Linked DNA regions of Homo sapiens: regions 1 and 3 are each linked to region 2. Evidence: fine-mapped expression QTL. A gene starts in region 2. Each other region holds a variant in brackets. All regions are shown on one strand. Distances are between the middles of the regions. Region 1 overlaps WDTC1 (WD and tetratricopeptide repeats 1). Region 2 holds the start of WDTC1 (WD and tetratricopeptide repeats 1). Region 3 overlaps TMEM222 (transmembrane protein 222).

What was found. PIP is the estimated chance that this variant, and not a neighbour inherited with it, causes the effect.
Region 1: its variant is fine-mapped to the expression of WDTC1 in whole blood (INTERVAL, PIP above 0.99).
Region 3: its variant is fine-mapped to the expression of WDTC1 in whole blood (TOPMed, PIP above 0.99).

What each region holds. Positions count from the first base shown.
Region 1 is chr1:27,307,985-27,310,738 of GRCh38, reverse strand. It overlaps WDTC1 (WD and tetratricopeptide repeats 1), which reads right to left. Exons shown (of 16, transcript NM_001276252.2): 16 at 2,103-2,754. Among named protein-coding and RNA genes, the nearest start is that of TMEM222, 13 kb to the left of the region's middle. RefSeq lists enhancers at 1,907-2,431, 2,432-2,754. The variant T/AT (reference allele first, on the strand shown) is at 1,571.
Region 2 is chr1:27,233,106-27,235,859 of GRCh38, reverse strand. It overlaps WDTC1 (WD and tetratricopeptide repeats 1), which reads right to left and starts at 1,228. Exons shown (of 16, transcript NM_001276252.2): 1 at 909-1,228. WDTC1-DT (WDTC1 divergent transcript) reads left to right here and starts at 1,431. Exons shown (of 3, transcript XR_947117.2): 1 at 1,431-1,598; 2 at 2,258-2,415. RefSeq lists silencers at 549-598, 759-808, 999-1,148, 1,349-1,408.
Region 3 is chr1:27,330,432-27,333,185 of GRCh38, reverse strand. TMEM222 (transmembrane protein 222) reads right to left here. Exons shown (of 6, transcript NM_032125.3): 2 at 2,382-2,466; 3 at 1,085-1,116. Among named protein-coding and RNA genes, the nearest start is that of TMEM222, 9.6 kb to the right of the region's middle. The variant AAGG/G (reference allele first, on the strand shown) is at 1,306.

The DNA of each region.
Region 1 (2,754 bases), 75 kb before region 2:
CTTTGCAACACAAAGAGTGAACCGTAATGTAAACTATGGACTTCAGTTATCATAATGTATCAATATTGGTTCATTAATTACAACAACACACTAATGCAAGATGTTAATAATTGGGAAAATTGAGCTGGGGAAAGAGGGTTATATGAAACTCATTATACTATCTGCTCAATTTTCTGTAAGCCTAAAACTGCTCTAGAAAGTAAAGGCTATTAATTTTTTAAAAAATGGAGTACCAACTCCAAATGAAATGGAGACCCTCGTGAAGTCTTCCAATGCCTCCCTTGCCTACAGGATTGAGTCTGTGGTCTCTCACCAGCCATAGGAAGTCCTTCAGTTTGACTGCTCCTCCAGTCTACCCTCTACAATCCAGCCAGATGGAGTCACTCAGGGTTCATGAAGGAACCTGAGACTCTGCACTACTCCCTGGTCTGGAACATTGTCCTTCCTTTGTCTGGTCTGGAAATGCCTTCAAGAAGCTTCTGCAGACGTTAATTTGGGTACACAGAGGAATGATACCAGCCCACAGTATCTGTTTTATAATACCACCTATTGTGTTTCCGGCAGGACCTCTCAGTAGTTTCAGTAGTGGAACTGCTATTCCCACAGACTAAACCATAGTTCCCCAACTGTGCATCAAGGTGCCTGAGGGCACCCACAGCAAATTCACAGGGGGCAAAGTAGGATATTTTGAAAGATATTCAACATCTTTGGCTAATGAGAGAACTATTAGCTCAAGGTAGTTCACAGTTCCATTATTACATTATGCCACAATCCTTTTGATGATGTCATCTTTAAGAAGCTGGGTCTTGGCCGGGCGCAGTGGCTCATGCCTGTAATCCCAGCACTTTGGGAGGCCGAGGCGGGTGGACCACAAGGTCAGGAGAGCGAGACCATCTTGGCTAACGTGGTGAAACCCCATCTCTACTAAAAACATAAAAAATAAGCCAGGTCTGGTGGCAGCTGCCTGTAGTCCCAGCTACTCAGGAGGCTGAGGCAGGAGAATGGCATGAACTCAGAAGGTGGAGCTTGCGGTGAGCCGAAATCGCACCACTGCACTCCAGCCTGGGCAACAGAGCAAGACTCCGCCTCAAAAAAAAAAAAAAAAAAAAAAAAGAAGCTGGGTCTTTAGTGGTTGCTGTGATAAAAAGCAAATGAAAATCAATGTGGGACAGGAAATGAAGGCAGCAGTGTTTGCTTTGATTAGAAAATTTAACAAGTTGTTCAGTGCCCAATGGGCAGCATAGATCCCATTAGTAATTGCAGTTGTTTAAGAATGAAGGCTGGGCGCGGTGGCTCACACCTGTAATCCCAGCACTTTGGGAGGTTGAGGCGGGCAGATCACCTGAGGTCAGGAGTTTGAGACCAGCCTGGCCAAGGTGGTGAAACCCCATCTCTGCTAAAAATACAAAAAATTAGCTGGGTGTGGTGGCGGGCACCTGTAATCCCAGCTACTTGGGAGGCTGAGGCAGGAGAATCGCTTGAACCCAGGAGGCGGAGGTTGCAGTGAGCCGCAATTGCACAATTGCACTCCAGCCTGGGCGACAAAAACGAAACTGTCTCAAAAAAAAAA[T/AT]AAAAAATAAAAAATAAATAAAAATGCAAAAAAAAAAAAATAGCTGGGCATGGTGGCACATGCCTGTAATCCCAGCTACTTGGGAGGCTGAGGTAGGAGAATCACTTGAACCCGGGAGGCGGTGGTTGCAGTGAGCTGAGATCATGCCACTGCACTCCAGCCTGGGCAACAGAGCAAGACTCCGTCTCAAAAAAAAAAAAAAAAAAAAAGAATGAAATAAATATTGTTTCTTCCAATTCAGGTGTATTATTTTTTAAATGGCAACTAACTTGTTAGGACATAAATACTTTTTAAGTGATTTGGACTTAACTACTTAATAAATTGAACTGTTATTTCTTTTGGCTTAGAGGCTCCATGAAAAAATTACTGAGATGGTAATGGTGCTGTGAGCTAAGAAAGTTCAGGAACCTATAGTCTAAGAGATTATCTAATCCAGGGCACTTCAAAAACTTGCATATGTGAAATCAATTTAGTGGGTTATAGCCATATTTTTTTCCCTAATAAAACAGAAGGGTAAGCAGAGTACACTGCATGTAGCAAGGGTAAATATTATTGTGTAAAACTTTTGTTCATTTTTTTTATATATATATACACACACACATATCTACAAGTAATCATGTGTATATTGGGTCACAATGTAAAATGGTTTGAAAAACCACTAAGATTCCAAGTCCCTTATTTTACTGATGAGAAAACAGCCAGAGAGTGAAAGCTGATGATTACAAATCACAGCCATGAGAGCTGGGCTCTGCACTCAGCCCTGCTGGGCTGGGTGGCCGCTGCTCACGGTGACCCTTCAAGGCAGGCCTCATTCTGTCCAGTAGAGGTGTGGTTACTAAGTCATAGAGCTACAGAGGTGAGGGACCAGGTGCCCTCACTTTGGTTCCAAGACCCATCTGCACCCCACAAATGCCACCAGCCACACCTAGAACAAAATGGTTTTAATCAATTGCGTCACCCTCACTCTCCTGGGAGCGGAGCAACAAAAAGGCTCGGCTCCTGCCCCCAGAGGACAGTAAGGCTTATGTGTCTCTCCACACTGCAGGGCCCAGGCTGGGCAGGCAGGGGGTGGGAAGCAGGACAGGGGGCAGGGAGGGAGGGTGGGAGGCAGGGAGGAAATGGCAGGTGGCTGGAACACAAGAAAGCAAAGGGGACCCAGCTGGTCCTTGGGCCCCAGGGCCCAG
Region 2 (2,754 bases):
AGAGAAAAACTATAACGTTGCTCTACCAGTACTTCAGGAGGTTAAAGAAAGTCACAGAAGAAAAGAACTCTGGGGAAAACAGTCAAATTCGGCTATTAAGACATTAGTTACAGGCCCCTGTACCTCTCCTCTAGAAACCCTGGGAGTACACCCGCAGAGGAGAGAGAGCCCAAGCCACCAAGCAAAGTCAACCAATCTGGCAAAGGGGCGTCCCACTGCGGCTTTCAGTCCAAGAAGTGGATCCTGCTGGTTCGCAGTCTCTCTTCTATCTCCTCACTTCCTATTTACCCTTTGAAGTGGGTACTGAATAGCCCGTTCCCAAGCAGAGGCCCTTTGTATACGGGGTGCTACAGTCGCCTGGTGGAAACACCTTGGCAGAGTTGTTTGGTGCCAGGATGGGCCACTGAAGGCATCTGCTGTGGACACACACACACACACACACACACACACACACACACACACACAGAAAGAGAGAGAGAAAAACAGAAAGAGAGAGAGCGAGAAGCTAAGAGGGCAGGTCAGGTCGGCGTTGCCCTCCCAGCACTTACACCTGCCCCTTCTTCCTGACTCCGGCGCCAGATCAGATGTCAAACAAAAACTCCGCAAAAAAGTCCCATGATGGAATGACTTCCACCTCTCCCTCCGCAGAGCCTCCCCGGACTCCCACAGCCTCCCCCCGCGTCCCGACCAAACCCTCCGCCCCCACCCCGCCCCCGGACCACTCTGCCCTCCGCCCCGGCGAGGCCTGGCCCCTCTCGGGACACCCGGGGCCCCGAGGCGGGTAGGCTCAGGCCCCCAGGCCGGCAGGGCTGGAGCCGGCCCAGAGCGGGCGGCCCGTTCACCGGGGCTGCGGGAGCCGGTCCCCGCCTCGGCGCCCGCGGAGGGCAGGGGGCGGCGGTGACCCGTACCTGTCAGGTCTCTTCCCCCGACCGGCAGCGGCGCAACTTCAGGAGCCCATGTCCGTCCGGGGGGGGCGGCCCCTCTCCCGGGAAGGGGGGCGCGGATCCCGGGGAGGGGGCTGGGGGGCTCGAGCAGTTCTAGCCCCTTCCCATGCTCCCCGCCCGGCGCCTGGCCGGGGCCGGACAGCGCCTCCGCCCGCCCCTGCGCACCGCCTCACACCCGCGCTCACACACACTCACACTCCCTCGCGCGCTCTCACACACGCACTCCCCTCCCTCCTCCTCCTCTGTTTATCTCCTCCAGCTGTCTGGGGACCCAGGAGAAGCCCAGCAACGCGCCTGCGCCACGCAGTCTCCGCCTCCGCCCTGCGCCTCGCAGCCGGCGGGTACGCTACGAAGACTGCGCCCGGCCGCTTCCAGAATGGCTAGCCGGGCCCCCCCACTTACCCCCCCGCGCCCGGTCAACGTCTGCTGCCGGCGGCGCCCACTAACCTGCTAGTGGGGGAGCCCCGCACCGCCGTGGCCAATGGGCTTCGCCGCTTGCGGGACCGGCAGCCAGTGGGCGGGCGGGAAAGCTGGGCTAAGCCCTGGGGCACCCTGGGAGTCGTAGTTTTTCGCCGTCGAGGAGTTCCTGCAGAGCGGGCTCACCCCGCCCGGTTGCCATTAGTTACCCGGACGCACCTCCCACCCCACCACCGGGTAAAACGCTCCTCACACCGCTTCTGGGACACCCGCCCACACGCTCGCCCACTGAACCCCAGGTCCCCTCACAGCCCCTTAAGAGCTCCTAAGACTTCCTCTCAGCCCCCGAATTCTGGGACCTCTCAGGCTAGGGCCCCGGGGGGCTCCTCAGCCCACTCCTTCCTGCTCTGGGGGGCTGCTGAAGTGGCACAGTCCTCACTGACGTCTCCTGGGCCTTAAGGAAGAGAATGAAAGAGAATCGGGCCTACGCTGAGTAGCCTGGAGAGGAGTCAGCCACACACACTCTGGGTGCCCTCGGGGTGATGGGAGCGACTAGGTCCATCTGACCCTAGCGGAGTCACTGCTGCTCCCACCTCTGAGGAAGAGACGCAGTTCCAGCCTTGTGGAGTCCCGGGTCTGATGGAGGAGAGACCCTCCTCTTTATTAAGGAAGTTCCCAAGGTGACAAGGGTGGCACTAAGCCTATCTTCTTAAGGCAGAGACCAGGCCCCACCCGTGAAACCTCAAGTCAGAAAGGGAAGACGTGTCACCTTCTGACAAAGGAAACTTGTCACCCATAGGGTGCCATTTGTCAGATACTAACAATAATTCACTTTTATTCGCACTGGATTGGGTACAGTCTCTTAGCTAGGTACTATTGCTGTCTGTGTTTTGCAGAAAAGGAAAGCTGAAGCAGAAAGGCTAAAAGCAACTTGCCCCCGGGGTCCTGATAAGTTGGCAAATTGGGAATTAGACCCAGATCTGCCTGACACCAGAGTCTGAGCCTTTTAACACTGCCTGTCTTTCCTGTGAAAACCAGACAGCACCCGCTCTCAGTAAGGACTGAATATATGTATTTGGCATTTATAGTGTTTATCACTCCATGTGTCGCTTGTTTTTTTTTTTTTTTTTTTTTTTTTTTTCCAATTCTGCTCACATCATGAGTACGAATTTGTCTGTGAATACCTGAATACTCCCAGAGACAAAGGTAGTATTCTAATTGCTGGTGATTTCTCCGCAAGGGAGATTTCTCCCCATTTAGAGGAGTAAGAACCTATCCTTGTGAAACCGCTCACAAAGCCTTTTATGCCTTTCTCCTAAAAATATTGTGGGTCATTCCCCCTGAACTCTCCACCACAGCTGTTCTACTGAATATAAAAAATCATAGACTTTGG
Region 3 (2,754 bases), 97 kb before region 2:
CTGGCAGCTAAGGCTGGAGATGCAGGTGAGGCCACATCACGCGGGGAGTTTACCCAGCAGCAAGCACTCTCCCCTAGTCTCCCAGGCAGCTTGCCAGGGTGAGTGGCAGGGAAGCTGATGGTGCTAAAGCCCATAAACCTCAAGGTGGGTGAGAATTGCTGTTCCAAGCACCAGAGTGCCCGGTGGGTCTCAGGCCAAGGAGAGCTGGGAGGTCAGGGCGCCCCCTGGCTGTTGTGTAGGGGAATGGCTTGGTGGAGGAGTCTAGAGACCATGGCCTGGACTGGGGCCGCTTAGGGGCTACTGCTTGGAAAATGATGCCCTTAAAACTGTCCTTGAAGAGCAGTCTGGCAGCGAACACCTGGTGGCCCAGAGACTCCTGGACTACACTGCTGCCTGCCGGAGGAAGCCAGAGAGGGCAGCAGGAAGCCCTGCTCCAGGCCATCTCAGCTGTGTGGGACACCAACTCCTCCTCGGCCCAGTCTCTCCTCCCAGTGCAGCCTTGGGCAACAGGTCACCTGAGGACACTGATGACTGAGGCACTCTCACCAGGCCCACAGCTGAGGTGGGCACCCGAGACTGCAAAGATGAAGACCAAATGTCCCAAACCAAACCAGCAATAGCTCCCAGAAGGTTGAACGGTTTTTATTCTCTCCAACCAGAACTTTCCAGCAGAGCTCCAAACAATGCCTCTCTTCTACCTTCCATGCCTCATTTGTTCCCAAAGGGCAGGAGAGTGAGTCTAGAGGGAGACAGATCTGGGTGTGGGTCCCAGCTCTGCCACTTCCTGTGTGACCTTGACCAAGTCCCTTCCCTTTCCTCACCCTTGCCATGGAGTTGAAAATACAAACCTGAAGAGCTGTGGCAAGGCCCAGATGGTCTACAGGTAAAGGCCCTAGCCAGGGGCTGGTGCGGTACACACTCTGTATGGGGTTGCCATGCTCTGGTGGACCCTGGCTGACCTCTCCCCCGACCCCAAATACTCTATTCTCAGGGTGCTGGCCCCTCCTGTGCCCCAGAAGGCCTGGCCCGCCCCGGCAGGAGCGACCTGCCTCTAGAGCCAGTCACATGGGTGTTCATCACTTACTTGGCAGGCTTTCCAAAGGCCATGTTGTCCTCCTGTTGAGGGACAAAAGCAGAGGTCAGTGAGGAACTTACATTTGGGCCAGATGACAAACCTGGGTAGGTGGCAGAAGTGCAGTGACTTAGAAGAGGGTATGTCAGGGGTGGGGGGGCCAGAAGTGGGGCCTGGGCCCTGCCCTGGGGCTGGCATGGCATCTAAAGAGCTAGCAGCTGTTCTGCAGGAAG[AAGG/G]CAGTGTGGCACAAGTGCACAGAGCACTGCATCAGAGACCAAAGATCTGGGGCTCCAGCTGCCACTGTCCCTTGGTGTGGCACCCAGGAATTCTCTTGCCCTCTCTGGGCCTCATTTTCTCCAAGTTCTCTGGTCAGTCTTCTCTGATCTCTGAGGACCAGCAGGAGGTTTCCATCATGGTCTGGCCTCCTGACTCAACAGTGGTGGCCCACATGGAGACCATCTCCTCGCCCAGCAGTCTGACTGCATTCATAGCAGGGCGGGGGCGCTGGGCCCAGAGGGACTTCCTGTGAGGGAGACACTGCAGTGAAGTCCTAGACTCATCACATTATTCCTGGGGTACAGGACTTACACAGAGACAGACTCTGGGTTCAGATCAGGGAGACCCTGCTGACAGACCTGGTCAATGATTAATCACCATAAAAATATATGATAAAGTAATGGATGTGAAAGTATTTTTAAGTACAAAGTGACAGACCTTTGTCGTGTTAAGATGATCATGACAACTATTAATATAAACAGGTTGGTGCCACCACACCCCTTCAGTCCAGCCTCTGACACCTGGAGACAGGATGATGCATGCTCCTCTGCTGCTAGCCCACTGGACCAGTCTTGGTCACAGCCCCAGGGAACAGACCTGAGAACACAGCTGCTTCATTCTAAAGCCCCACCCCCTCTTCTCCATGGCCACACCCAGGGAACCGAATCAGCCTCCCGTGTCCCCCCACCTTGACTCCCACCTTCTGAAGGTCCAGAGATGTGGTTCCTGGATGGTCTGACTCTCCACTCTTGCCTCTAATCCCTACCCATGTCTCGGTACCCCAGGGGTGGGGGCAAAGGGCTGGGTCAGTTACTTAAGAATCCTTCTGGCCACACTGCCCTCCCGGCCTGTCCTGGAGGCAAGAGAAGGGGGAAAGGGGTCAAACACTGGTGAGGGGCAGAGGGCCAGGGCCAGGACTGCGGGTTATCTACGTTCTCCTGGGTCTGGGGAGACGAAGCCTGCCTGCAGGCAAGACAGGACAGCCTTCCACTTAAACCTTGGAACCCCCCGGGTGGGCAGAATGGGGACTCACTGAGACAAAGTAGGGGCCCGCGAAGTCCCGAATGACTCCTGTGGATGTGCAGATGCCCATGTGGCCGATGATGGGGAAAAACCACCTGTGAGGAAAAGGACGGGGAAGGGACAGAGCTTAGGGGATCTTTCAGCCAGTTAGACGGACGCTGGGGACCCTTCATACAGTACAGAAGCATGTGAATATTACGTTTCATTGACAGGTGGCCATTAGGGTGGTCCAGAAGGCTGGGGAAGCACAGACAAGGGTAACTGCAAACCGACAGCACAATGGGATACCTCAGCATCCCGCCAGGATGGCTGTAACTCAAACGACAGCAACACCAATGCAGGTGAGGGCAAGGGACAACCAGAGCTCTCATTCACTGCTGGTG